Regions from separate parts of the Homo sapiens genome. Here region 2 is linked to region 1. Evidence: fine-mapped expression QTL. A gene starts in region 1. The other region holds a variant in brackets. All regions are shown on one strand. Distances are between the middles of the regions. Region 1 holds the start of GSDME (gasdermin E). Region 2 overlaps GSDME (gasdermin E).

Region 1 (14,396 bases):
CATTACCCGGGGCCAGGCTTTTTGGTGAGCAAGGAGAGGTGAGAAATGGATTTGGGGAACTTTGAAGCATGCTTGCTCAGCCTTCTCTGTGAGGCCCTAATCAAAGGCTGGTCTTTCTATGGTATGTTTCCCCAAAACTCCCTCTGCCAAGTCAGAATTGCTGGGACCTTTTAAAGCTTTTTCAGCACGTCACTCCTCTAGTGGTTGTAAGCTTCTTAAAGGCAGGAATCCAGATTTATTCAGGTACACAGTAGGCACTCAACAGTATTTGTAAAATGGAATGGAATTCCAGGGAATCAGAAACTAATAATCATAGCTACCATTTATCAAGTATCTGCTGGTATATCTAATCACAGTAACTCAGTGAGCTAGGCGTGATTATTCCCACTTTCCAGATAAGGAAGTGGAGGTTTGGAATAGTGGTGACAGCAAGTAAGAGGCAGAGTTGGAACTCAAACGTAGCATTTGCACCAACTCCAAAATCATCAAACAGCCATGTCTTAGTTGGCTGCCCACACTGACACTGGGATTTGCTTGGTTTGGGGTGGTGTTGATTTTTTATTGTTTTTTAATATAAGAAAGTTAGCAAAAGAAGATGGATTTACTTGCAGAAAGCAAGCTGACTTGATTTCTGAAGTCCCTGTGTGCCCATTCCCACTGGATGTCTAGACTCCTTACAGAGATGGAGCCTCAGAATGAAATGACAGGTACAGTTCTTTGGGGGAGAAAAAAAGAAGCTTGAAGGTTTCAACATATAGTATTAGAAAAAAATTCCATTTCTACCAACAGTTTGAAACGAAAGCTTTCATGATATCACAGGTGCCTAAGGTGACAGAAGCTCTACTTGCAGGGTTGTTTTCTTTTCCATCATTCAGACCAAACACATTTATTACACTGGTGCTTTTAGCAATCAGTCAAGATTGAGTCAGGTGCCAGGATAATTTTCCTTGCCAAATTGCTTTTTCCATTGCAATTAGTCTTTTTAAGGACCTTACCAAACAACAAGTGTGTACACAATTCTCATACTCCCCTTCCAATTATAACTCAGCTAAGAAGTTGTATCAGTAATAAATTGTTATAGATGAAAACATCAACCACACCCACTCTATCACCAGTCTCTCCCTGTATTCTTAGATAACTCTTGGAATCAGGTGTAAGATTAAGAACGGCTCGTTTTAAAAAACAGAATGTATTATACAATCCAAAAATATGTCATTTAAATCAGTTCAGCTGTCTGGTTTACCCTAGTTGGGATTCTTTACAAAAGCTCTGGGCTTGGCCATCACCTATTTGCCCTCTAAAATTATTTTGTACAAAGCTGTGTCGGCCACTGCTCTCGAAACCCAGTTCCTTTTTTTCCGGAGCACAAAGACTACATTTTCCAGCCTGTCTTGCAATTAGGAGAGACTCTGTGACTGATTTCTGGCCAAAGGAAGGTACAGTAGGCTCCCTTTATCTGCAGTTTCACTTTTTGTGGTTTCAGTTACCCACTATCAGTCTCCATCCAAAAATATTAAATGGAAATTTCCAGAAATAAGCAATTCATAAATTTTACATTTGTGCTATTCTGAGTAGCATGATGAAATCTCATGCTGTCTTGCCCTGTCCTCTCCAATGACACAAATCATCCCTTGTCCAGCATATCCATGCTGTCTACACGCCTGCCTGCTGGTCACTTTGTGGCCATCTAGGTTATCAGATTGGCTGTCATGACATTGCAGTGTTTGAGTTGGATCACCCTTATTTTATCTAGTAATGGCCCCTCTGTGCAATAGTAATGATGCGGGCAATTGGGATATTCCAAAGAGAAGCTGTAAAGTGAGAAAGTGAAAGTTCTCAATATGGAAAGAAAAAAATTGTATGCTGAAGTTGCTAAGATCTATTTCAAGAACCAAATCTCTCTGTGAAACTAAAGAAGAGAAAAGAAATTTGTGCTAGTTTTGCTATCTCACCTCGAACTGCAAATGTTATGGCCGCTATGTGATGTAAGTGCTTGCTTAAGATGAAAAAGGCATTGAATTTGTGGTGGAAGACATGAGCAGAAACGTGTTCCAGTTGATCCTGGCTGGGTTTGGTGCCATCCTCCATTTCAGGCATCCACTGGGAGTGTTGGAATGCATCCTGTACCCGAAAGTGCCGCTCCCATAAAAATCTCCCATGAGGGAGTCTCCGGGTTCTTTCCTTATCTATCTGCCCGAGGTGTCCATGCTCAGGGCAACCTCAACAACCTGGAGCTGAGCCTCCCCCAGCCTGATTCCTGAAGGAATGAGGACTGTGGTTCTTCCTCCCCACCCACCCCACCCAAAACCTAGAAGTACCTTAGTCAGACTGTTTACCGAGTAGGAAATAAGCTACTATTGTATTTGAGCCATTATAATTTGGGACTTCATTTTAGCAGTTAGCTTACCCTAACAAGGACAGCTGATCATTGTACTTCTCATCCTCTATCCTTATTGTTTATCTGTCTGCCTTTCCCGCTATACTACAAAGCCCACAGACCTGGAGGGCATGAAGCACATTCTCGTTGGTCACCTTATATCCTCAGTACCTAATATGGCACCCAGCACCTAGTAGGTCACTAATAAATATTTGTTAAAAAGATGTTAGGTGCATGGGCTTTACTTCTCTATGCTGGGTATAGCTCACCTGGATACTGGACAATATTTAAAAATAACGATAATCAGATGAAAAAAGTTTGTATATCTCTGGATCATATTATTTTGAATATTTCTGTAAATTGGACATCTGGTGGCTGACTACTGGTATTCATCACAAATTTCCTTAATGCTGATAATAACGTATGTTTCTCCATGAACAATGGACAAACAATACAGAAGTTTTTACTAACTTTGTTTATGTAATGCCACTTTCTTTTATGGCTTTTTTTTTTTTTTTGACACACAGTTTCTGTCACCCAGGCTGGAGTACAGTGGCACGATCACAGCTCACTGCACCCTCAACTTCCCAGGCTCAGGTGATTCTCCTGCATCAGCCTCCCGAGTAGCTGGGACTACAGGTATGCACCATCACACTGGCTAATTTTTTGCATTTTTAGTACAGATGGGGTTTCACCATGTTGGCCAGGCTGCTCTCTAACTCCTGGGCTCAACTGATCTACCCACCTCAGCCTCTCAAAGTGTTGGGAATACAGACAGAAGCCACTGCGCCTATCCTGTAATGCCACTTTCTTTCATGAAAACAAGGGCGGCAGATAGAAGATGTCTGGAAATTCTTTGCTGTTTCTCCCATTGAGAGGTAGAATATACCACCCCTATCTTTGAATCTAGGCTTGTTGTGGAAATTACGTTCTGGGTGTTTAGAGATTATGTCATAAGACTTCTAGCTTCTGCCTTGTTTCTTTTTCTTGAACATTTGCTTTTGGAGCCCTGAGCCTCCACTATAAGAAGTCTGACTTCCCAAAAACCACCATGATGAAGAGGCCACATGTAGGGCTCTGGTTGATAACCCTCAAGTTCAGTCCCACCCTCAAGGCATCCCTGCCAGTGCACTAGACATGAGATGCTATGGTCTGAATGTTTGTGTTCCCCCAAAGCCATATGTTGAAACTTAATCACCAATGTGATAGTTTCAGGAGGTGGGGCCTTTGGGATGTGATTAGGTCATGAGGTGGAACCCTCATCAATGGGATTAGTGCCCTTATAAGAGACTTAGGGACTTGTTTTGTTTGTTCTTCCCTTCCACCAGGTGTGGACACATTGAGAAGTCACTATCTATGAACTAGGAAGCAGGATCTCACCAGACATCGAATCTGCTGATGCCTTCATCTTGGACTTCTCTCTCAGCCTCCAGAACTGTGAGAAATAAAGTCCTGTTGTTTATAAGCCACTCAGTCTATGGTATTTTATTACAGCAAACCGAATGGGCAAAGACATGGGTGAAGTTATCCAGGACCCTCCAAACCAGGCCATTCACCTTCACCAGCTAAATTCCACTGAGTGACCCCAGTCAGTGCACATGGAACAGAAGAGTCACTCAGCTGAGCCCTGCTCAAAGCCCTAACCTACAAAATTGTGAGATATAGTAAAGTGGTTGTTGTTTCAAGCCACTAAGTTTTGGGGTAGTTTGTTATACAGCAGTTGATAATTGGGACAGCAAATTATTTCACATTTCCTTGTTTGTCCAATAATATTTGCATTGAGACTTTTGATTTTGACAATATTGGTTGATCATTTGCTAGCTGCCAAGTAATTTCAGTTCTTCTCCTATCTGTATCCGTGCCTTGCAATTGAATAAGAGAAGGTTGGGACACCAAGAGAAACAGATTTAATTCTGGACCATATTTAACCCTCTATAAAGCTTTTTATTTTAAAGCAGTAATTAGTAATATGCATTGGCAATACAGTCTCCAGTTTAAAAAGCACTTTTGGGATTTAGGGAGGTAAATGAAATCAGTTTTAAAATATATATCAATGTATGCCAAATTTTATTTTAATTTATGTTAGTAGCTATGTTCCTCTGGGAAGCAATCAATATGGTAAAAGGCAAAATTATGCATATGTGAAAAATGTAGTCTTAATTTAAAGGCAACTTTAGCTGAAAAGTAATTAATAAAGGCAAGGAAACTAATTTTTATTGAGTGCTACTATGGGCTGAGTACTTTATATAATCTCATGACAATGTTATAAGTAATTTTTAAATGGGAAGTTATACAATTTGCCTAAAGTCACTCAGCTGGTAAGTGGTAGGCTGGATTCTACCCAAATCTGATGGATCCAAAGTCTGTTTTTCTCTCCTTTGCAGAGGTTATTAATCTGAAAGCGTCCAGGTCTCCAAATGTGGTTCTCAAGGAACTAGGAAGCAATTATGGCAGCCATGCAGAGCTGGTTTATTGGTGTATTCATTTACGAAATAAATCCCGGTAATGAGTTTTATTGACTTTTGCTGCCCTTTGCGTATTTTTCCTTAGCAAGAATCTAGGCATAGGGTAGGAAATACACGACACCCAATAGATGTGTTTCAGAAGTTCTGTAAGTTGAAACATAGTTTATATAACGAATCTTTTTGAAAGCAGATGCTGCTTACCATCATCATTAGGACCACTCCAATTGATCTCCTGTGAGATTTTCTTTCCATAGCCCTCCATTTCCTCAAAGGGGATATATCTATATGGAATAAGAAGATTGGAGTTCCACGTTTTCTTTTTATTTACTTTTTTCCAATTGGGCTAAAAGTTTCCATGTTGTATATGTTCATCTGAAATCTTCAAATAGTCTATTTAACAATAATAATAAGCACAATTATTTTTTTAAAAAAGTTATGGCTGTGCCAGAACCTTTTCATCCCCCCACCATTGGACAGGGAGAGCAGCAGACTGGGGTCAGGTGAGATCTTGAACACAAGTCATCCCTCTCTCCCAACACAGACCATGCTCCTACACTGCTTGGGTGGGGGGACCCCTACTGCACTTCTGCACTTCTTATTTTCTGTTCTGGAGAGTCTACCCTATGGTGGGTTAAAACTCAGATGGTGCTGAACAACCTGGGTTAAAATCTTGGCTCTGTCTCTTCCCAGTTGTATGAGCATTCCAGTTTGTGCCTCAATTCCCTCATTTGTAACTTGAAACCCCCAAATAGTTGTAAGGATTAAATGAGCCAATCATTGCATGTAATGTACTCAGAAGCATGCTTGGTGACAGTAGACAGAAAGTGCTACATAAATAATAGCAGCTGATATTATTACTATCTTCCTCGGGCATTTAATTAAAAGACTAGGCAGGACAAAAAAAAAAGTGACAGAATTTGAAGCCACTTAGTAACTGTTGCATCAAAAAGTTCACCCACTCTGAATTACAAGTGGTAACTATCTAGATAGAGGACTGGGGCTTTTTGGGGTGGGAACCTGATGAGTATGCTGTTTATGAGGATATTCTTAAGGTCAGTACCCTAGCGGGGGATGCAATAATCTCTGGCAACAAGCCAGAATCATCACCGTATAATTTTATAATGATAGAGAACCAATAGCATACATGAAAAGTCTCTTGACAGGGCTGGGATTCTTTCTTTCGTCCAACATCTCATCACATTAGCAAATCAGGGGCCTACCACCATGGACCATTTCGAACCACTTCTTCATCCAATAACCACTAATTGTGCACTTATTTTGCGCTGGGTACTGCAAGGATGTGTACTGCCCCACAGTCTAGGTGGAGAAACAAACAAAAGGATTCATTTCTTAATTCAACAATTATTTACTGGATAGCTACCATGTGTCAAATCCTAAACTAGGTGCTGGGCATAGGGAACAAAACAGACCAGCTGCCCTCATGCTGCTGACATTTTACAGGAGAGGATAATACATGAAATAAGAGGCACACAGTCTATCAGATGGTGGTGAGTGCAAAGAGAAAAATAAAGCAGAGGAGGAACTAGGAGGTGTTCCCGTGGGTGGGTGGGCAGCACTTTTAATTTGGATAGTCAGGAAAGGCTTTACAGTGAGGTGGATAATTGCAATCTAGAGATATGTTTAAAGCATAGCGGGGCCCAAGGGAAAGCGCTGCCGGGCTTCTCTACCTGCCCTCCCCGAACAGCCTTTAAGACAGCCACACAACTCCATACTGTGTGAGCTCTCGCAGGGCAGAAATTTCATTTTCTCTTACTCTTTGCTCTCAGCTTAGTAGAGAGCATTGCACAGTGAAGACGATACACTGACTGAAAGTGTCACTGAGCAATGGGCTCGTAACCTGAGGCACACAGAAACCAAACTGTGGCACAGGCTTTTGAGAAAAGAAAAACTTCTATTGCCAGTCAACTGGCAAGGAGACAAGAGGCAAAGCTTAAATCTGTCTTCTGGACCTGGGAGCGGGTCAGGCGTTTTTGGCATTTCTAACCAGTCCCAGGTGATGCCAATGCAGCCTTCTGCGGGGCGCGCGGTGTTCACAATTAGAAAGCTTTCCCTCTTGCACACGCCCGGGAGATTTTGGCTCTGCCTCGCTGTAACAACTTAAGTAATGGTTAATCGGTTTCAGCTGGTCCTAATGTTACAAAAAGAGCTAATATTTAAGTCAGTTCATCAGAAAGCAATGTTTGAGCACCAGCTATGCTGAGATTCCCTCGTTCAGTATTCGTTGAGCACCCAGTGTGTGAGAGCGCCTGGTTTTGCCCTCAAGGAGCTTAGAGTGGAGTTTACAGGAATGAATCACTGATTAGCGGCAGGCCTAAGTGTGGGCACTGTCGCACCACACACCCAGATACTACTCCAGGCACGGGCATTAGGGGCTCCCACAGGCTGGACAGGCCTTGGACTTTCCTGGTTGAACCGTGAGGCCGCGGTGTCAGTCCACACTCCACTGTGGGTGGCGGGTTCGGCCCCGCGAGGAGGCGCCGCTCTCAAACCCCACGGTCCCGCGCAGCGAAGAGGCGAGGCGGCCGCGGAAGGCAGGCGCAGCCCACTCTTCCCGAGAGGCCCCGACATCTCCCGGGTGAGTCCCGAAAAGCGCGCGGGGACTCCGGCTGAGCGCTGGGCCGTCAGCAACCCGGCTCCCAGAGAGTCACACGAAGGAGGGGAAGCGGCTCTCTCTGGGGCTTCTGGGAGGTCTGGCCCGGGCCCCTCCCGCAGCCTCCGGCGGCCAGTCCCGCGGCTCTGGGGCGCCCGGACCGAGCAAAGGTCCCGGCGGGCGGGCCCTCTCTCCGCCCTCCCCAAGCGCCCGCCCCCCGCCGGCCCAGCGCAGGCTCCTCCGACTCCGCCAGCGCAGGGGGCGCGGCTGCCGGGGACCCAGCAGCGGGCGCGCGGGTAAGTGCGCGGCGGGCGCGGGCTGCGGGATCCGCTCCGGGCTCCACTCCGGATCCTCTTTGGTCTGTTTGGGTGTCCCGGGCCGGGGGCAGCCGAGGCCGCGCGGCGCTTTCTCTCTGGGCCACCCTCCCCTCGCTCCTTCCTAGGGGAGACGAATCGATTGGCTGCCCGGCCGCCGGAACGGCAGGTCCCGTCGCTCCCCTCGCCTCCCGCATTCCCGGCCCGGTCCCCTCCCATCACCGCGTCCCGCCCCAACTCGCAGTCAGCATCCCCTTCCCATCCTCTCCCCGTCCCCGCTGCCACTTCCTTCCTTGGATGTTGGAAGCGCAGCTGGTATTTTCGTTCTCCCAACCCCCCAAACCCCCCCTCCCCATTCGTTCATCCTTTGTGTTCCGGTCTCTTCTCTGGGTGCTGCGGAGGCTCTCCCGGCTCGGGGGCGTGTGTGCAGGGAGGCGGACCGCGGAACAGATACGGAGTTCAGTCTCTCTGGACGGAAAAAAGTCCCCCTCCACTTTGCTCCGGTATCTAGAGAGCTCCTAGCTTGGGGAGGAGGCCAAGCCCCACTCGGTGTGCCTGGCATGCGCTGGAATGGCTCTCAAGAGCTGCCCGCGTGGCTTCCTTTGGTCTCCATTTGAGGACCTCTGACCCTTTCCAGAGCCGCTTGCCGTCTGCACCCCGAGGGGAAAGACTAGAGGGCACCTCTTAGAAAAGCGCTGGTTGTGGACTGAACACACCGACCACCCACTCCTCCAGAGTCTACTCTGTCCAGAATAGTGAATGGGATAATGAAAGGGATGGATGGCTTGCGGTCGCTGTCCTCGAGACGCAGGCAGGTGGGGCAAGTCCAAGTGGAATGAAAGGAGTGCTGTGGGGTTGGAGAAGCAGCTGAAGAGTGAAATTAATTGTCTTCACAATCTACCACCACCAAGCTCTTTTTCTAAAGGAGAAGTTGAGCCCAGACCATTAGGTAGATCTGAGAGAGAAAGGGCCCAACCCCCTAGCCACGGTCCCTTGGCTAGGTTCTTTGTTATTGTTGAGAGAGGGTCTCGCTCTGTCACCAAGGCTGGAGTGCAGTGGCACTATCCTAGCTCACTGCAGCCTTGAATTCCTGGGCTCAAGGGATCCTCCCATACACCCGTAGCTGAGACCGCAGGTGCCTGCCACCACACCGCATCTTCTCTATTCTTACCCAGACTGCCCTCTGTTACCCACTCCACTTCCCCAAAGCCTTTGGCGCCTCACTCTCCTTCTCCTTTCGAGCTCCTGCCTGTCTTATGACCATCATTGCGTTCACATACCGATTTTTATTTTAGAAAGAAATGATGAAATATTAATTTGTCTTCTCATTAAAAATGAGCTCAGGTACTGGGCTGTAGGGATAGGAAGATAAAAGATGCCACCTCTGTTCTAATTTAATAGACCCAATTGCACTTTGCTATCTAGAAAACTAAAACTAATTCAAAGTATGCTGAAATTGCTAACAATGAGACAAGTAGACAAGTACAGCCATGTTTCGTCTCCCCAGATAGAAAGGAAATGACACATGTTCCATAGCAATGATTTCTGTTTCCACCGTAACTGAGGTTTACCTTTTTCAAGGGCACTTTCTTATGTTACAGAATGAGTCATATGAGGCCCACATTAGAACAGAAAAAAAGCTGAACAGGGAGCCAGCAGAGTAGAGTGGTCAAGGGCACAGGCTTTGGAGTCAGGTGGACCTCGGGTGGAATCTTGGCTCAGCACTGATTCTCTATGTGATGTTCAATCCCCTCCAGTCAAAGACCTCCAGGAACACACTGTCAGTTCAATAAGTTGGTTTATTTCTCCTTAAAGTGAGGGACACCATGGGGAACCCTGAGATGTCTCAATAAGAGGTGTTAGAAAGGACAGAGGATTTGGGCATGTAGTAGGTGATTTGGGGAAAGAGGGCTTTGCTCTGAATTGGATGTGGTCAGGGAAGCAGGGGAAGTTCTGTGATTGAGTATCCTCGTAAATCTCGTCAAAAATGAGAGAAGGCCAGAGAGAGGCTATAGCTGTGATTGGTCAGGAAGCAGCAGTCACTCATTAGGACTGCTAATGATTGGAAGGGGGGTGGTATTTGATCATTTTTGTGCTTTGAACGTGTTCATGTTTTGTCTGTGTTCAGGCATGATTACAGAGAAGCCTTGTTTTCATGTTGATTTATCATGACAAGACTGGCCTTGCCTGATGTTGATGCTCTGTGCCATTATTCATGGTCAGCAACACCAGGGCCTGATAGTTCCAGGCCAGTTCCCTGATAGGGCTGCTTCTTTCTTTGCTGTGATCTTGGGCAAGTTACTTAACATCTTTGAACCTCAGCTTCCTCACACTGCCTACTTCAAAGAGTTATTATGAAGATTAAATAAGGAAATGTGTATAAGGCAGTAAGACCCATGCCTGGAACATAGCAGATACTCAACAAACAGTTGCTCCTCTCTTTGTCTAGAGTATTTGATGTTGAAGTTTCTTTTCTAGAACTCTTCAGGCAGAGGCCCAGGGTTCAACCAGAGCTGCTTTTAAGAAGAATCCTGAATGGAGTGTGAGAAAGAATGAGGTTTCTCTTCTAATTTAAAAACTAGATAACTCCATGACTGAATCAGTCTTAACAGGCAGTAGTGAATATAGTTATCTTCTCCTGCAGTCATTACCTTGGCAACTATTTTTAAGATTCTTTGTTCCCAGTGGCTCCAGTTGGCTGTGTGCTTTGCTAACTTTGTGTCATTGTCCTGCTTTCTTGGTGTCTGCCCCACAAGGTCTCTTGTCCAAGAGTCTGACTCAAGCTAGGATATCCTTACTGCATTTGCTTTGGCCTTTTTAGTTCTCATCTGCTTTCAGCTGGGAAGCCAGACTAAGGACTGTTTGCTAATACAACTTTTTTTTTTTTTTTTTGAGACAAAGTTTCGCTCTTGTTGCCCAGGCTGGAGTGCAATGGCAGGATCTTGGCTCACTGCAACCTCTGCCTCCCAGGTTCAAGTGATTCTCCTGCCTCAGCCTCCCGAGTAGCTGGGATTACTGCCTGCCACCATGTCTGGCTAATTTTTGTATTTTTAGTACAGACCGGGTTTCACCATGTTGGGCCAGGCTGGTTTCAAACTCCTGACCTAGGTGATCCGCCCCACCTCGGCCTCCCAAAGTGCTGGGATTACAGGCATGAGCCACCAGGCCCGGCTGCTAATATAACTTTTAAGGCTCTGTGCGAGAGTCCGTGATCTATGTAACAACTGTGAAGTGCAGTGAGTTTTTAGGCCATGAGCTATTTGAGCATGATGCCTCCTGAGGCCATTTTCATCTTCTCCCAAATTGGAGCATTGTGAAAATGTTAATCCAGAGTCTGACTTTTGGCTGAGACATGACTGTGCTTGTCTGTGTCGGGCAACTTGAGTTCTAGATCCTTCATTCATTTGGACCTGGCCATACTCTTTAATCTTTCCTGGCTGACTAGTTATCTTATGTGTTTGAGAATGATGGTGGCAGTGTATTGTCCCCTAATGCTGCATGATAAACTCTGTTGTTCCTAGCCTATATTTTGGTAGATTTATTATATCAAACATTCCTGGAAATAAAGCCAAAAAAAGCAAGAATAGAAAATGAGCAAAGGATACAGTTAAATACAGAAAGTCTTTCAACAAAATAAAAGATGCTTGATTTTATTTGTTTTAAAATAACACAACCTAAAACTAGGCTGAGATTCCATTTCTCACCTATCAGACTTGCAAAAATCCAAAAGTCTAATGATACACTGTTGCTAAGATGGATACTTTTGTACATTATTGGTCAGACTGCAGAATAGCACAACTCCTACAATTACAGATGCATTTACCCATTGTTCTAGCAATCTCTTTTCTAGGGATCTACCCTTCAGATACATTTGTTTGTTTATGAAGAGGACATCCGTATGGGGTATTTCCTGGGGACAGCTTTAATATAACACAAATTTAGAAATAACCCAAGTGGTCAGCAACATGGGACAAGTAAAATGCGCAATGATACATCTGCATAAGGGAGTATGTGGCAGAAAGCAAGATGCTGAGCAGTGTTCAGACTCCTTTTAACTACACCTCTATAAAGAAATATGAAGGAAATATGGCTGAAGGGGAGAGGAGTGAAAGGGTTGCTGGGGCCTGGGCAGGAATGGGATTTCTCAATGTGTATCCTTTACATCATTTAGATTTTTGAACCGTGTAAGTATAATTCACATGTAATAGTAATAAAGAAACCTCCAACTTTAACTTCACCAGGAGAATATTCTGAGTCCCATGATTAAAAAGTCTGAGTCTAATAAACAAAGCAATAAATAGCCACCTCCAGTTACTCTCCTTAAAGCACCCTACCCTGCCAAGAAGGCAAATTAGCTGTTTGATGTTAGATGGAAAAAAAAAAAACATGAAAAATTAATTTAGGAATTTCCTCTTTTTTACCGTCTAATCCCTGTGGGGGAGGATTGGTGTCTTTACTAAGGTTTTCCCACCCACAGCAGATGGGTTTTATTTTGTTTTTTAATGGCAAGCCTGATTTGGTTTCTACAGAAACCTGTGTGATCTGAAGGCAAGTGCGTGAGTGAACTCCCTTTCAGCTTGTCCCAGAAAAGAATTAGAAGCCATAACAGTGGAGATCCTGACAGCAGTGGTAAACTAAAGCAGTTGTTCTGTGGCTCTTTTCCTGGACTAGCAGGACGAGTTCTCACAGGCCCTCAGGGAGACCCAGTCCCATGTTTGGCAAAGTAAATCTGTTCCTTTCAAATTCCCTCTCTTGGTAACTGGCTTTTCCTTCTCATCTCCCAGCCTGCACCTGGGATACCAGCATGACACCCCAGGGAGCCTTCTTTCTTTCATCACCACCCTTCACCAAGCGAGTGTCTTTTCTATCCTTATGCCACTGACATAGTCCAGAGCGTTGTCATCTTTGTCCATCTCTAATCTTGTTCCCCTGCAGTCCCTTTGCTATTTTGCTTCTAGAAGATTTTTCTAAGGGATCATTCTGATCACAGATCCTCCAGTGGCACCTGCTTCCCTGGCTGCCCTGCAGGAGAGGCAGGACATGGATTGGGGGCCTCCCCAGCTTTGTCTCTGGCCCTTCTCCACTCTGGAATGCTGCATTCCAGTGCAAGAGTCAAGCTCAGAGCTTGACCAGTCTTTCCAGTCTGTCAAAGTGGTGGATGGCAGATCAATACAACACAATGTCTCCTGGGCCATCTCAAGCTCACTGGTAACCCATTTGCTTGGCACTGTCTTCCCCATCCCTCCATCACCTCCTGCAAATTTTGTGCTTTCATAATGGCTGCTCCTCAGCTACAGCATCCATATAGTGCTCCTTTGCCTGGCTTACTTCTACTTAGCCTACACAATGCAGCTTGGATGTCATCGACTTCAGGAGGACTTCTGTGACAGTATGCCTCTCTCCAATGAGATTTAGATGCCTTTTTCTTGGTTCTTTCCCTGGAACAATCTCTGCCAGTAGCTAACATAAAACTAAGCTGTTTATTTCTCCATCTGGCCACCAAACTAGTAGCTCATTGAGGAGAGAAATTATTTTTTGTTTCTGTATCCTAAGTGCTTCAACACAGTAGTATAGTAGGTACTCAAGAAAAATTAGTGAATGATTCAGTTGATGATTTGGTAAATAAATAAATGAGTATTCCATTGAATGCAAGATTCTTATGCATAGCATAGTGACAGATAAATTACAGATGACAGCCTGAGCATCCTTAGTCATGCTGCTTTGCAGTTCACCTTATCAGAAAGGAACTTCCTTGCATATTTTAGAATTTTTTCCTTAAATGTTCATTCCTAGTGTTAATATACAAGAACAGGGTCAGGTAGCTACTGCTTCATAATAATCTAAGAAAAGATACTGTACAAAAGAACCAGTGATCGATAAGACAAATGATTTCCCATGCCCCGAAAGAGATTCATGTTAAGGTGGATTGAGCTAAAGTCTGAGCTTATTCTCATCTCTTAAATCCTAAGAGCTGTGTGACTGTGCAACTGTGCCAAGCGCCAGGGTGCAAGCAAAAATAAAAAGCAGTTCTTGTGCATTAGAGCTTTTCATTTTGACCATGGATAGTTTGTAAAAATGTTATTTTCTTCTTTTTGTATGTGGTAACTTATTATACATGCGTGTATATATATATTGGGCTATGTGCAATTTGTGTATTGTGAATGGTTTAGAACCATTGCCTATGTTTCTCTTGGAGTACAGTATTTTAAAACTTGATTTATGAAAGTTTTTAAAAAATATGTTAAGCATTTTTGTTCCCTCTCATAAATATTACAATTATTTTCTCAGTTTGCCCTTTGTCTTTCTAAAGGCCCTTCTCATCCTGCGATTGTACAAATATTTCTCTATTTTTTCTAGTACTTTCACAGTTTCATTTTTCCTCAAAGAAACCTCTTGATTTCATTGGGAATTTGCTTTATTTATGGTATGGGAGAGGAATTCAGTTTTTTTCTTTCCAGATAGTTAGCCCATTGTTCCAACAGCATTTATTAAATAGTCTATACTGCTTCTCTTGAGTGTAATATTTTCCTTTTTATATCTTCCAATGTATCTCTTCTTTTCTCCTCCTGCTAAAGTATGACTGTGCCTTTATTTTCTGGGTTAAAAAGCCATAGCTACTTACTTTTCAT
Region 2 (15,342 bases), 40 kb after region 1:
CCTGAAAATTCTGGCCATTTCTTTGACCACCCTGGAAAGGGGTCTTGACTTGCCTTCCCTGCCAATAGTGGAAGGAAAAAAACATTTACAGAGCCCCTGCCATCTGCTGGGTAGAGTGTGGGTCATTTAATGCAAGATCTCACTGAACGTAACCCTCATAGCAAATTCTCAGTTTACAGATGTGCAAACTAAGCTTCAGGACTGGAGCAGTAGCTCAGCTAGGAGGAGATTGAGTTAGTCTGTTTGCATTATTATAAGGAAATACCTGAGACTGGGTAATTTATACAGAAGAGAGGTTTAATTGGCTCATGGCTCTGCAGGCTGTACAGGAAGCATGGTGCCAGCATCTGCTCTTGGTGAGGCCTCCAGAAGCTTCCAGTCATGGAAAAAGGTGAAAGAGGAGCAAACATGTCACATGGCAAGAACAGGAGCAAGAAAGAGGAACAAGAGAGAGTGAGGGGGAAGGTACCACACTCTTAACCAGTGTGAACTCAGAGTGTAAACTCACTCATTACTGCAAGGCGGGCACCAAGCCTTTCATGAGGGATCCACCCCCGTGACCCAGACACCTCCCACCAGGGCCCACCTCTAGCACTGGGGATCACATTTCAACATGAAACTTAGAAGGGACAAACATTAAACCACATTGGAGCAGGGAACCGATTCCGGGATGACTCCAGGTCTTTGTGTTATATCGACCTGCCAGGTACGCGCAGAAGGGCAACCTCACAGTAGAACTGGGTGGGCGGAGTTGAGCCAAGCCCCTGAGTGAGGAGAGGGAGTTCTTCTCGACTGAGTATGCACCCCCTTCCCCTGCCTCCAGACTTGCTCCTTTGGGGCTGGCCCTTTCTGTTGAGGATATACGCCTCTGCCTCAGTGGCCTCCTGTTCTTGCTTTCACGTTGCCGCCCCCGCCAGGAAGAACAAGGAGCCTGCCCTTAGATGTGTGAAGCGGATGAAGAACCTCTGCTTGTTCATTTTCTCCTGGAAGAGCTTCTGCTCCATTTTCCCTGTCTTTGGGCATTGGCTCCTGGCTGGACTTGGGGAGAGGGTCTCATTCCAGTCCTGCCCGGGTTTATGTGATAAACCATTCATTTTATCCCCCAGCTGGGTGGATAGCACAGGGCTAGGCACCAATAAAAAGAGCAAGTACTTTGTCCTCCAGGAGCTTACAGTCTGTCCAGAAGGCCTTTTTTTAAAATACTTTTTTTTTTTTTTGGAACTGGGCAATCTATTCACATGGTTTAAATGTCAAAAGGTCAAAAGAGAAAAGGTGAAAAGCCCCTCCCCGCCATCTGGTTCCCCACCCAAGAGGCGACCACTACTAATAGTTTTCTGTGTCTCTAAAGCCATTCTGTCTGTGTTGCTCAGTGGCTCTCACAGGGCCCGAGAGGAAAGAAATCAGGACAAGTTGGGGAAGAACTGTCAAATGGCACAGGGCGGCAGCCACGAGGAGAGTGAGATGGGCTTGGGGAGAACAGGCAGGCATGGATATTCTGATAAGGATTCCCAGAGGACTTGGGTATAACTTGCTTTTCCAGCCTCCATCTACTGGTCTGGTTACATAGGCAAGATATTTACATATAGAAATGAACATAGCAATACAAGAGTTAATAGAGATGAAGATTCAATTCCTAGTACAGCCCAAGGGTGCCCTCACCCAGAAGAGGGAGACAGCAGCTATGGGTGCTATGGCCATGTGGGCCATTGTAAAAGACCTGGGCTTCACAGCTGTGTGACTTTGGTTACTACCATCAACCTCTCTAGGCTCTTTTTTTTTAAACTCTTCTGAAACCCTCAACTGAGAGTTTTAAATGTTTTGTTTCATGAACTCTATTAGCAGTTGAAGAAACCCATGGGCCTCTTTAAATGCTTATAATAAAATATATAAGGTTATACAGTAAACAAATTGCATTGAAATTTGGCTGGTTTCTGCACTAGGCGGGCACAGGGGAGCCCTGTTGCATGGTGATTTCTGTTCTGAGGAGGGCCAGAGCCAGGGTCTGGTGACCTTGAACTGTTCTGGGTCTGCACCTGAGAACACCGTCCCCAGGGGACACCAGCTCTCCCCCTGGGGCTGCTTGGGGCTTGGTGGAATTGACTGAGGGAGGAGATGGGGAAGAATTCCCTCCCGAGATTGCTTTTCAGAGAGTCAAACGAAAAATCCATTTTCCCTGATGTGTAGCTTCCCCGCTGTCCCTGTGGGGCCTCTCCTAACTGAAGATGATTAAATATTTCCAGCATTTGGTTTCCAAAAGGTGGCAGCACTGTCCTGGGAAACAGAATCCCAGTGACTTGGGTGGAAGTGTTTGCTGCTAGGTGGATGATGCCTGCAGTTTCCGGCAGCCCTGCCTTGGTTGCCCAGGGAAGGATTCCCAGTGGCCTGCATGAGCTGTGGCTGTGTGACACGTTTCTGGTCACCCGAATCCTAGCCTTGGAGACAGTCTCCGTCCCTGGGCGAGCTTCTGTTCCTGCGCTGTGGTGGGTCCGCCCCACAGAGACCTTTTGAAGGCAGCGACTCAGCAAGCGTCTCAGGACTGCCCTGTCATCGGATACAGCAGGCAGTTGCCTGCCCACCTGCGTAGATGGCTGCCCCTCTCTTTTGGTGTTTGAGGTGGGGGTTCTGGAGGGAGGTGGGCATTTTAAGCAGTGGAGTCTTGAGTAGTCTAGGCTGAGCTTTTTCTTTTCAAACAATTTCACACTGGCTAGGAGCAGTGTCCAGTGTTCAGTGGATTCTGTTTAGGGCGGGTAGGAGGGCTGTGATTTCCAATCCAGCAGAGTCACATCAGACTCCTAAAGGCGGCAGTTGTGGGGTCGTCACCAGGCGGTGATGTGTCTGACGTGCGTCTAGCTGGGAGGAGCCCATGCCTTAGTTGTGAGGGCACAGACAGACGTTCAAGAATCTGCTAGAATTTTGAGCAATAGAAGGAAGAGACCATTGGAAAGGGAACAGTTGAATGTATGTTCTGACCGGTGGTTACAATGGCTTTTATCTTTAAAGTCTTTGCCTATGGGACCAAGACATGCAATCCCTTAGGAAGATCGCATCTGCTATGCACCATTTTTTGATCCAAGCTGCAGATCCTCCATTTCCCCCATCTTCCGTGTCTTCTGTCTTTCACACGTGGATGCACAAATACATATGTACACATTCATTCAACCAATAGAGGAAAAAACCTCACAAGTTTTATTTACTCATTTATTCCAAAAATATTTCCTGAGCTCTTCCTACGTACTAGGCATTGATCCTGGCCCTGAGATATGCAGTCAACAGGAGAGCACACTCACCACCTCTGTGGGGTTTATATTCTTGATGGAGGAGGCAGGCCATGAGCAGATAAATGAATGAGCTAGAAAAATATCCTGTGGAAATGTGCTCTCCAGAGAAGTGATCTTAGGGTGTGATAGCATGATGGGGGTGCAGGGAATGCTTCCCCGAGGAGGTGACCAATGAGTCAGTGAAATGTGGCCATCAGGGAATGTGTGCCAACGCCTCGGGGTAGGCACACACCTGGCATTTTTAAGGAGTAGTAAGAAGGCTGGAAGATAAAGTCAACAGGGGGCAGGGCAGATCACATGGGGCCTCAGCCTGGGAACGCACTGGACATGGGATATAGCCATTGAAGGCTTTTAAGAAGGGAGTGATGTGGAAACGTACCTCTGATTCAATTCAGTGCCCCATAATTCCCATGCAGGGCACACACTGTGGCTTTGTTTTGTGAGCCTCATAGAGGGACACGGGAAGGTGGGCGGAGCCAGCTAGTGTTTGTGTGGCATTTAACTCTGTGCTCGGCACACCCTAATGGCTCACTGCATGCATGTCATCTAAACCCTGACGGAACCCCATGAGGAGGGGGCCCTGTTACCAACAGTTCATGCACGAGAAAACCTAGGTGCAGAGGTGGCCCTTCACTCGAGCTTGCCCAGTGGGAGGGCAGAGCTGAGATCCGAACCCCAGCCCTGCAGGCTCCAGGGTCCCTGTTTCCTGTTCCTTCCTGGAAATGGAGTCTCTCGGCAGCTTTGTGGTTGTCATCAATGTATTTTTATCACGTGTGAGACATTTTTATAATTTGAATTTCCTTAACCAGTACTAAGATTGAACCCGTTTTTCCTATGTCTTATCTATTTGTTATTGTGGTAAAATAGATGAGACACAACATTTACTGTTGTAACCATTTTTAAGTGTAAAATTCAGTGGCATTAAATACATTCACCCTGTTGTGCCGTCATCTCTACTCTGCATTTCTAGAACTTCTTCGTCACCTCAACTAGGAACTCTGCAGCCATCAGGCAGCGAAGCCCTGCAGCCCCGGTAACCTCCAATCTGCTTTCTGTCATTATGAATTTGCCTGTTCCAGATATTTCATATGAGGAACCACACAATATTGCTCATTTGTCCCTGGAGTGTGTTACTTGGCATAATGTCTTCAAGGTTCACCCATGTTGCAGCAGATGTCAGAACTTCACTTCTTTTTTTTTTTTTTTGAGACGGAGTTTCGCTCTTGTTGCCCAGGCTGGAGTGCGGTGGCACAATCTCAGCTCACCGCAACCTCCGCCTCCCGGGTTCAAGCAATTCTCCTGCCTCAGCCTGCTGAGTAGCTGGGATTACAGGCATGTGCCTGGCTAATTTTGCATTTTCAGTAGAGACGGGGTTTCTCCATGTTGGTCAGGCTGGTCTCGAACTCCCGACCTCAGGTGATCCACCTGCCTCGGCCTCCCAAAGTGCTGGGATTACAGGCATAAGCCACTGTGCCCGGCCCAACTTCATTTCTTTTTATGGCTGTATGATATCTCATTATATGACTATAACACATTTTGTTTCTCCATTCATCTGTTGATGGACACGTGAGTTGTTTCTATTCTGGGCAGGTGATTACATTGAGATGGGACTTTCCTAGCTACTCACTCCAGTTCCAGGGCTACTTTCTGAAGCCCAGAGAACCTGAGTCTGTCTAGGATGGGTGACCCAGCATGTGTGTGGTCAGGGATGGGTGCTGAGCTTTTCAAGGTAACTAACCTCTTAAAAAAAGACCAGCATGGATACCATAATTTTTCTTGTGCTGTCACCAACTCTAGTTTGGTTCTTTTCCTGTCCATTTCATAGAATCATAGTATTGAATGAGATCTCCAGAGAAGTTATTTCATCATTTGCTTCTAAGCATGAAATCATCTCCTGTAAATAAAAATTTAGTCTGTTCTTGAAAGTTTGCAGAATTTCAAGTGGCTGGGTGGGAGCCCCAAATCTCTGCTGAGTGACTCTGGATAGGCCATGCATAACCAGCCTCAGTTTCCCCATGTGTAAAAAGACATCAAACCCCTTCTAAGAGATGAAACATCTTTCCTAGACAGGTTAAGAAGTTTCCTCTTAGTTCAAATCTAATTTCCTTCTTGCTACTCATACTTTAGGCCTATTCCTTTCTCAATGAGAAGCAATTGGTCACCATTCCTCCCATCATAATCCTGTATTCCCTGGGCCATGGCTGTGACGTCTGACATCCTTCAGCTCTGATTAAATAAAAAAGTGGAGTTTCCAGGGTCTAAGGTACATGGATTGCAGTTTCCTTCCTGGTTAGTTTTCTTTTCTTTTCCTTTTTTTTTTTGAGATGGAGTCTTGCTCTGTTGCCCTGGCTGGAGCGCAATGGCATGATCTCAGCTCATTGCAAATTCCGCCTCCCAGGTTCAAGCGATTCTCGTGCCTCAGCCTCCTTAGTAGCTAGGATTACAGGTGTGTGCCACCACGCCTGGCTAATTTTTGTATTTTTGGTGGAGACAGGGTTTCACCATGTTGGCCAGGCTGGTCTCGAACTCTTGACCTCAAGTGATCTGCCTGCCTCAGCCTCCCAAAGTGCTGGGATTACAGGTGTGAGCCACCACGCCTGGCCCTGGTTGATTTTCTTTTCTTCTCCTTGACAACCGGCGCTGCTGTTTGACTGAAAGCCCCCTTCCCTCTGGCATCTAGCCTGGCCCCCAGAGGCCCGGCAGCTCTGAGGTGGCCTCAAGAGAGTTTGGTTTATGTCTTTCCAGGTGACCTGCCACCCCTTTCATCATGAGGAAATCAACAAAGCCTGGCTGTCACCTGCTCACTCCTCAGCTGCCTGCTGTGCAAGAGGAAATTCACACTACACCAATGTCCCCTGAGGCACTAAGCCACTCACATCCGTTTTTCTTTTTCAGAACAATAAATCTGAGAAACCCTGTGCTCCAGCAGGTGCTGGAAGGAAGGAATGAGGTCCTGTGCGTTTTGACACAGAAGATCACGACGATGCAGAAGTGTGTGATCTCTGAGCACATGCAGGTCGAGGAGAAGTGTGGTGGCATCGTGGGCATCCAGACCAAGACGGTGCAGGTGCGTGCAGTCGGGCTGCCCTGCGTTCATGGCTGAGCAGTCCTGGAGACCTTGGTTGGGGGCCTCTTTGGGTGGTGTCTTCATTAGTCAGGACTCTTTCCGTAGCAAGTTAACAGAAACCCAACTCACGTTGTCTTAAATGAGCAAGAGTGTATTGGCTCATGTAGCTGAAACACTTGGGGAAACTGGCTCCAGTCACTGCTGGATCCAGGCCTTGAGGATATATAGGGAGCTGCTTTCCCTGGGTTGATGCCCTCTCAGATGGGCTCTCCCTATGGTGCTGGCAGCTCCAGGCTTGCTCCTGATTTGCTGCAACTCCAGGGGTGAGGGGGGCCTAGGACTGGGTCTCACCAGACCGTCCCGGGATATGTTCATTCCTGAAGCAGGGCAGGGTTGCAGGCACTCGAATGGGCCAGGTGGGCTGGCGTCAGGTGCTCTTCCTGTGGGCGGCAGATGTTTCCCCAAGAAAAATGAACACACAGGCACTGATCAGGCCAAATGCAAAAGAATCCCTAGAGCCTCTCAGAGCTGGGGCTCTCACAGTGATTACTTGGAATTAGCTGCTGCAAATCCTTTGTGGGTTGAGTTAGGGCAGGTAAGATCTAGCTATCTCTACATAGATTCTTCTAGATTAAGTTATTGACAGTCTTACCAAGCTGATCTGTGAGCCAGTACTAAACTTCAATGGACTAGGTGGCCATCAGCCCCAAACTCTTTCTCCTCCAGCTTGCCATGGTGGCTGATATTTTCTTAGAGATTTACTTCTTGGGATGACTTTTGGCTTTTTCTAGAGGAACTCAGAAAGTTGTATTTGGAAGGAGCTGGAGGTAGAGGTCTGGGGCCAGCACTCTTACTGGGTTGGGGCTGGGTAGCAGCGAGGGAGGCGCCGATGGGAGATGGCTCAGGCCGGCCCTGCTGGTGCTCCTGCCACAGTCACTTCCTGCCAAAGTGTTGAAGCCTTTCAGAGTCAGGAGGCCAGCTGCCATTTCTCAACCCAAAGCAACACACTCTGACCAGGATCAAGTTGCTAAGAAAAGTTCTCTGATTGCCAGTGTTTGGCCAACAAATAGATTCTCATCTTCCTCTCACCAGGACATCGTGGGAAGGGGTCCTGTTTGTGAGAGTGTTTAAAGGCAGGAGCTTGGTGCCTGACTTCTTGGCATTTCCTGCCTCTCCTCCCTCCGGCCTCTTCCCACTTCCCTCTCTGTTCCTGGTTTTATCAGCACTGTGCACCATCTACAGGGGTCTGGAGTGATATGCACGGGGTAGGGGGCCCTCTCAGCTAGGTTCTCCCAGTCCAACTTGGCTACTGTTTAAGGTTTTCATTAGGATTTCAGTTGTTTCCATAACCTGTGATGGAGGGAATTGGGAGGTGATCTTACGTATCGTATGATCTTTGCACAGCACTGTAGACCTAACTTCACTGTATCCCACGCTCTATAATCTCGCTTTGATGCCACCAGGTTGGCC[G/A]TTTACTTGGGAATTTGTGTACTGATGCCAACAAGGATTGAATCCCCCCATCCCCCATGCTGGCTGGCTCCTCTGTTCCACTCGGTTCTGTGGACATTGCTCAGCATCTCTTATGTATAAGGCACGAGGCTGGCTGCAGTGGGGAACAGAGCAGCTTGGAGAGCCCGAGTGCACAGGTGGGAGTGTGCGCTTTTGCCCACAGGTGTCAGCGACGGAGGATGGGAATGTCACCAAGGACTCCAACGTGGTGCTGGAGATCCCAGCTGCCACCACCATTGCCTACGGTGTCATTGAGTTATACGTGAAACTGGACGGCCAGTTCGGTGAGTGCCACCTCCTATGGGTGCTGAGGGATCCCCAGCAGAGGATCCCTCAGCAGAGGGACTTGACTGCTTTCCAGAGGACTCGACTGCTTTGGAGACTGTGGGAAGAGAGGGAAAGAGGTCTGAAGAGCGTAGATTGTCCCAAGACATGGTCCCTGGACACATGGGCTGCACTGGGGGAGGGGTGTGGTGAGGGATGCCTGGAGCAATGCCACCCTCTCCTCCAACATTGGTGTGGGGCAAAGTTCCACCAGCACAGTAGAGGGCTGGGCTGTGTCCTCTGGGCATCAACCTGGGCTCTGCATCAGACACACTGGGCATCAACCCCGGTGCCATGATGTCCTATGAGGTCTCAGGCAAGTTGCTGAATCTTGCTGAGTCTTGGCTTCCCTGTCTCTGGAAGGTGAAGGGCATTTCTTCACAGGGCTGTGTGAAGATTTAATGAGATGAGGCCTATGAAGCGCCTGGCACAGTGGTCATTTATTAATTCCTCCACCTTTGCTATTAATAGCATTATCATCATTATTGTTACCCCACCTCCTCTCCACAAGTATGAAGCCAGACATGCTGAACTTGACTTTCCTCTGCTGATCACGAGTGTGTTCAAAGCGCAGAGACCCAGCTGTTGTCACGGAAGAAAATCCAAGCTTTGGTTCAGCGTGTCTGCTCACTTTAGGTGTTCACAGCCCCTTCCCTCCTCATGTTCCCAATGAGAAGAGGTTGTGTTCACTCATGAAAGCTGTGTGACCGCTCCTTAGGGACATGAGTGGGTAAATGTAACATAATAAATTGTGAAGTTTTTTAGGTGTGACAATGGTATTATAGTTATATTTATAAAAATGAGTCATCCTATCTTTGAGAGATGTACACTGAAACATTCACGGATGAAATGGTAATATGTCTGTGGTTTGATTCAAAAATAATATGAGTGGAGCATAAAGGGTGTGAGCATGGGCAGCTGCCGAGGGAAGGAGGCTTGGCTGAGAGGGGACAGTGGCTGAAGCTGGCTGATGGGCACACGCTGGTTCACGCTCCTCCTCTCTATTCCTGTGCAGTTTGACATTTTCTGTAACAGCAGTTTTTAAAAGGGCCGTGATAGACCACGCACATGCCTGCTGCTGCCTCCTGCTTCTCCCCCATTTGTGGAAGGCGGGTGGGGGGCAGTCTCCCGTGAGACAGCTCCTGCCCTCGCTAAGCCCACATGAGTCACTACGCCATTCAGCAGCCACTAGAGGGACTCAAACAGAATGCTCAGTGTCCTCGTGTGCTGCTGTCCACAAGCTGAAGGGTGTTGAGGATCCCTAGGAGAAACAGGCGAGGCACAGAAGGAGTGCACAGAGTCTCCCTCTCTCATTCTGCAAATGAAGAAGCCTGCATTTTAGGGCGGTGAAATGATTTATCTGAGGTGACAGAAAGAGAAAGTGTCAGTTTGAAGCAGTTGGTCAAAGAGGTCTGTCAGGGACCAAGAAATGCTGAGAATACCAGGTGTTGTGGCTTCCTTGAGGCCCGTAGTTCCAAATTTGTGTCCTCTGGGGCGTTTTCGTTATTATTGTCATCTTTCTCTTTGAAAAGACTTGTCTTCCAAAAAAAGTGCATCATGAAGAGGATCAAATTGTTCTTCTAGTCTCTGTTATCTGTATGTGGTAAGTAGGGTCACCATCTGCACTTTTGGGTTTCTAGCCCCCCTATGTCTGCCTTGGTGGTCCTGTCCAGTCTTACTGATGGCCAGTGGTGAATGTGTCACTCCCCCGCAGCTTACTGAGGTATGATTGACACACAGAAACTGTATGTTCAAGATGTACAAGTGATGATTCAATAGACATAGACATTGTGACGGGATAACTACTGAGTCAAGCTAATGAACACATCCATCACCCAGCATGGTTACCCTCTGCATGTGTGTGGTGAGGACACTTACTGTCCACCCTCTCAGCAAGTCTCAAGTAAACACTGCAGTACTATTAGCTATAATCACCATGCTAGATCCCCAGAACTTACCAGCTTACAACTGGAGGTTTGCATGCTTTGACAACATCTCCCCATTTCTCCCAGCACCTGGCAACCACCAGTCTACCCCCTGCTTCTGTGAGTTCAGCTTTTTTCAGTTCCATGTATAAGGAAGACCATGTGATATGCATCTTTTTGTGCCTGGGTCATTTCATTTAGCATCCTGTCCTCTGGGTTCATCGAGGTTGGCACAAATGGGAGACTTTCCTTCTTCTTCATGGCCAAAAAGTATTCCATTGTGTAAATACATCAATTTTCTTTATCTATTTGTCCATCAACAGACAGTTACATTATTTCCGTATCTTGGCTGTAGTGAAGGATGCGTCACTTCTGTAACGCTTTCTGAAATCTTGGCATGCACCTGAGGATGCCCAGGAGTGCTCTGCGGACCCTTCGGTGGCGGGGACCCAGGCCTGGGCTGCCACTCTAGGTGGTGGTCCCCATGCGAGCTTCCTCCTGTTTGTCCCAGGAGGTGACCAGACCCTGCCCTGACGCAGCTCTGTGGAGGTAGCCTCTCTTTCTCAGATGGGGTTTGAAAGACACACAGCCTTGTTCTGGCAGGGCTCTCCTGTTTGCATTTCAATTTCAAGGCTTTTATCTTTTCCAGCTTCCACTGTCTTTGAAAATAAACTCCTCTTTGTGCTGCTGAGAAGAGGTACCCTGGGGATATCTCGGCCTTCCCTTGGCTCGTTCTGGATCCTGGCCTAGGAGGCAGCTCCGTGGCTCCTTCCTATGGTGGCTTGGTGGTCAGGTCATCGTTCTGGGTGATTCACTGCCTGATTTTAAACCAGTTCTGCTATTTCTTTTCTTTTTTTTGCCCATCCGTTTTCTGTTGCTCTTGCTACAGAATGTTCTGGTATAGCTTCATAGACATAAACCTGCAGTGGTTGGAAGGGCCCTTGAGAAGACATGCCTGCTCTCTCTCCCTACCTTCCTGGTGGGATTGCATTTGACAGAGATCCTGGTCGTCCTTTGAAACCTCGAAGGGAGGCAGACTCCATCTGTATCCCGGCCAGGTGCTTCAGCCATGCCAGCTGCAATGAGACCCTTTCCTTCACCCACAGCTCCCCTCTCAGGAGACACTTATGCCCAATCAGAAACACCCTTTCATTCTCTTGACCTTCTGCCTTGCACTTTTATACATCTTGGCATTTGCTAGCGTCCTTCAGCACCAACTTCCAGTTGGATGCCTTGTGGGCGTGAACCTGTTTCCCACGCTGCACCTGAATCTGTGCACGTCTCCCCACTGGCCCTAACACCATCTCCCTGCTTCCCCACCTCGCTTTCCTTAAAGACAGGGCCTTGCTCTGTGACCTAGGCTGGAGTGCAGTGGCGGGATCATAGCTCACTGCAACCTTGAACTCTGGGCTCAAGCAGTCCTCCCACCTTGGCCTCCCAAGCAGCTGGGACTACAGGGGCTCTGCCACAGACTCGTAACTGGCTACTCTGATTCTTTCCTGTCTGTTCCATCCTAGCAGTGTAGCTAATGGGATTGTTTTAAAATTGACCACTTCACTCACCTGCTCAGACACCCTTCTGTGGCTCTTTGTCCCAAGAATGCAGTCTGCACCATGTCACGCCTTATGGGCCAGCCCAGCATGGGTCTCGTGCCTTCCCTCTGGTCACAGTGCCACTTGCCCCGTGATCTCACTGAGGTCTGGGGCATGGCACACCCTCTCCCACCCCCAGGCCTGCTGCGCCTCTCTCTGGGCGTGCTCTCTGCCTCTTTTGCTCCTGCCCAACCATCAGATGGCTTTTCTGGTTCTCCTTCCCTGTGACGGGGTTCAGGACATGCAGTCCTAAGATATTTTAAAGTGAAGGAATTTGAAAAGATGACAGAAGCAGGAAGGTCACTGTGACCTTCCCCTCACCCTTCTCCCTGTAGCAGGTCATAAAACCTCTGAAGGATTTTCCAACCTTCCCCTGATGCAGGTTACAGACCCTCAGGGGAGAGGCGCCGTCCCTCTGCCTGGAGGAAAGGAGCAGCCGTGTCTCCCGACACAGGACACAGAGAGGTGAAGAGACAGGCCTTGCTGAGTTCCTGGATGAATGGCCTTTCCATCATATGCTCTGCCCTGCCACATTTCTCCACCACTGTCCCTCAAACCTAGCAAAAAAGTACTCAAATTTAACTATTTTTTCACATGTTCATTTTCTTATGAAGGCTTCCATGTCATGTAAAACTGCTATTCGGTAAAGTTGCGTGCTTTTCCCTTTTTTTTTTTTTTGAGACTGAGTTTCACTCTTGTTGCCCAGGCTGGAGTACAATGGTGCGATCTTGGCTCACCACAACCTCCGCCTCCCAGGTTCAAACGATTCTCCTGCCTCAGCCTCCTGAGTAACTGGGATTACAGGTGTGCACCACTATGCCCGGCTAATTTTGTATTTTTAGTAAAGACGAGGTTTCTCCATGTTGGTCAGGCTGGTCTCAAACTCCTGACCTCAGGTGATCCGCCCGCCTCGACCTCCCAAAGTGTTAGGATTATAGGTGTGAGCCACCGTGCCTGGCCTCTCTTGTTAATCTGTCTGTTGTGATAGGGGCCTCAGCCATGAACCTAGGATGAGCAGAAGGAAAGATGTTTTTCCTCCCCTCCACCCGCTGGTCACTCTGGCCTCAGCCCTGTTCAACCGCTGTCCCCACTCTTACCACACTCATCGTCAAGGCCTGGTTGTAGTCCTTTGTATCTGTGGCTGTGAGCACGGGGCCTGGTATAGGGAATTTTAAAGATTTACATTGTTGCATATTTGCTGGCTGGCTGGCTGGGGATGGATGGATGAAAAGAATGAAGGAATTAATTGGTGGCGCCCTCAGGGAGCTATGCATGGGTGAAGGTGAGAGTGTGGTGTGTGGTTGGTGCTGTGGATTCTTAAAATGCCAGTTGGTTCCACATTATTTTGGGGACCTGGCAGGGCTTCTGGCAGAATTTGAGGCTGTGTGAATGGTCAAGGCTCCTGTCCTCAGGGAACAAAGTTATGACCTAGGTGCTGGTTCACACTCCTGCACCCCTGTGGCTAAGCGCAAAGTGTGGAGGAGTAGGGTCAGCCTGAATGCTGGTGTGGGCCAGGTGGGTAAAGCCCAGGGATCGTTTCCTTTGTCTTTAGACAGCCATTCTTCTTTTTCTTTTCCATTCTATCTTTATGAGCATCATTAATGCCCACAAGCAAATGAAAATATTTGCTAATACTCATGCCTTCTACATTTCAGCAAATACGGGGCCCTGCCACATTTTTATTCCATAGCCTTTGCTTACGTACACAAGTTAGTAAATAGAATCATAAAGAGAATGCTAATTCTTGAGCTCATTTACTGTTTCTGCTTAGCAAGGACGTAATAACTTACATTTTTATCTACACCTTAGATACCTTAGCTGGGTTCTCAAATATGGAAGTGTTTGAGAAAACATTTCTTTGCCTTTTTTTTTTTTTTTTTTGGAGACAAGGTCTTGCTCTATTGCCCAGGCTGGAGTGCAGTGGTGCGATCTTGGCTCACTGCAACCTCCGCCTCCAGGGCTTAAGGGATCCTCCTACCTTAGCCTCCAGAGCAGCTGGGATTACAGGCATGTGTGACCATGCCCAGCTCATTTTAAATTTTTTTGTAGAGACGGGGTCTCACTATGTTGCTACTCTCAAACTCCTGGGCTCAAGCAATCTGCCTGCCTCAGCCTCCCGAAGTGTTGGCATTACAGGTGTGAGCCACCATGCCCGGCCCTTTTTATTATTTAAAAAACTTTTTATCGCCTGGAGCAGTGGCTCACACCTGTAATCCCAGCACTTTGGGAGGCTGAGGTAGGTGGATCAACTTGAGGTCAGCCTGGCCAACATGGTGAAACCCCATCTTTACTAAAAATACAAAAATTAGCCAGGTGTGGTGGCAGGTGCCTGTAATCCCAGCTACTCGGGAGGGTGAGACAGGAGAATCGCTTCCAGCAAACGGAGGTTGTAGTGAGCTGAGATTACACCACTGCACTCCAGCCTGGACAACAGAGTGACTCTGTCTCAAAAAGAACAAAAACAAAACAACCAAAAACAAACCTTTTTATTATGGACATTTCCCACATGTTAAAAAGTAGAGATAATAATGTAGTGAGCTCCCATGTGCCCACCATCCAGCTTCAGTGACTAGGGCAATTCATGTTTTAGCCATAACTTCACCATCTCCTTCCTCTCCTGCTGGATTATTTTGAAGCAAATCCTAGGCATTATATTGTTTCATCTGTAAATATTTTAGTACCTTGAAATGATAAGGCTTTTGAAAAAAGACTAGCTTTGCCTTTGTAGAAACAGATTCAGAGAGAATGTATTCTTTTGTGTTTGCCATTTTTCACTCAACATGTTTGTGAAATTCATTCATATAACTGCAGACATCAGTATTTTATTTTTTATTGCTGTATATTATTCTATATATTATAGAAACATTGATTTCTTAAAAATATAATCACATAACTACTTGGCCACCTAAATATACTGGCAATACTTTTAAAATATTATCAGTGTTCAGATTTTCCTAGTTGTTTTGTGCATGTCAGGTTTCATTTGTCTGTTTAGAATCAGTTTGTTCAAATCAGGATAAAATAATATTTCCAATGTTTTAAAGATTGTGTCCAGCCTGTTCAGAGAATATATATTAGGGAGCTTTATGTAAGAACAGCCATTTCCTTATTTGTTGGAAGTGGCTGGGCTTTTGGTCAAGCAACATAATGTGTGTAGGGATCGAATTTTATGGGGAAGATGGATGGGTCTTCTGCTCCACTGAGTTACGTCTAAGATGTGCCATCAAGGCTGGGCTGACCCTGTCCAGACTTGTTGGCACACCTTAGACTCAACTTTACCTAACTTGTCCTTTTCTCCTGCACTACAGAGTTCTGCCTTCTCCGAGGGAAGCAAGGTGGCTTCGAGAACAAGAAGAGAATTGACTCTGTCTACCTGGACCCCCTGGTCTTTCGAGAGTTTGCATTCATAGACATGCCAGATGCTGCGCATGGGATATCTTCCCAGGATGGACCATTAAGTGTTTTAAAGCAAGGTATTGCCAGCAGGGCAGGAGTAGTGGGCAGTTGAGGGCCAACTGAGCCCTGTATCCCAAGAGGTGGTGTGGCCTTCAGCATCAGTGACCCCTCAGTGACTCACAGAAAACATATGAGAAGAGAGGTGATGCCGCCGAGGCCCAGTCCACTCGGCAGGACTCACCTCGGTTGGA

The links.
Region 2: its variant is fine-mapped to the expression of GSDME in lymphoblastoid cells (CAP, PIP 0.95). The same link has a PIP of 0.9 or more in lymphoblastoid cells after a statin.

Annotation. Positions count from the first base shown.
Region 1 is chr7:24,750,749-24,765,144 of GRCh38, reverse strand. It overlaps GSDME (gasdermin E), which reads left to right and starts at 7,681. Exons shown (of 10, transcript NM_001127453.2): 1 at 7,681-7,749. It overlaps LOC124901820 (translation initiation factor IF-2-like), which reads left to right. Exons shown (of 3, transcript XM_047421177.1): 2 at 7,208-7,483; 3 at 7,576-8,821. The coding sequence ends at 8,289. RefSeq lists enhancers at 1,521-1,815, 7,182-7,411 and silencers at 6,532-6,681, 7,492-8,071, 8,082-8,131.
Region 2 is chr7:24,710,050-24,725,391 of GRCh38, reverse strand. It overlaps GSDME (gasdermin E), which reads left to right. Exons shown (of 10, transcript NM_001127453.2): 4 at 6,174-6,345; 5 at 8,018-8,138; 6 at 15,004-15,168. Among named protein-coding and RNA genes, the nearest start is that of GSDME, 40 kb to the left of the region's middle. RefSeq lists enhancers at 325-1,008, 4,732-4,831, 6,329-6,518, 6,639-6,838, 7,125-7,712. The variant G/A (reference allele first, on the strand shown) is at 7,816.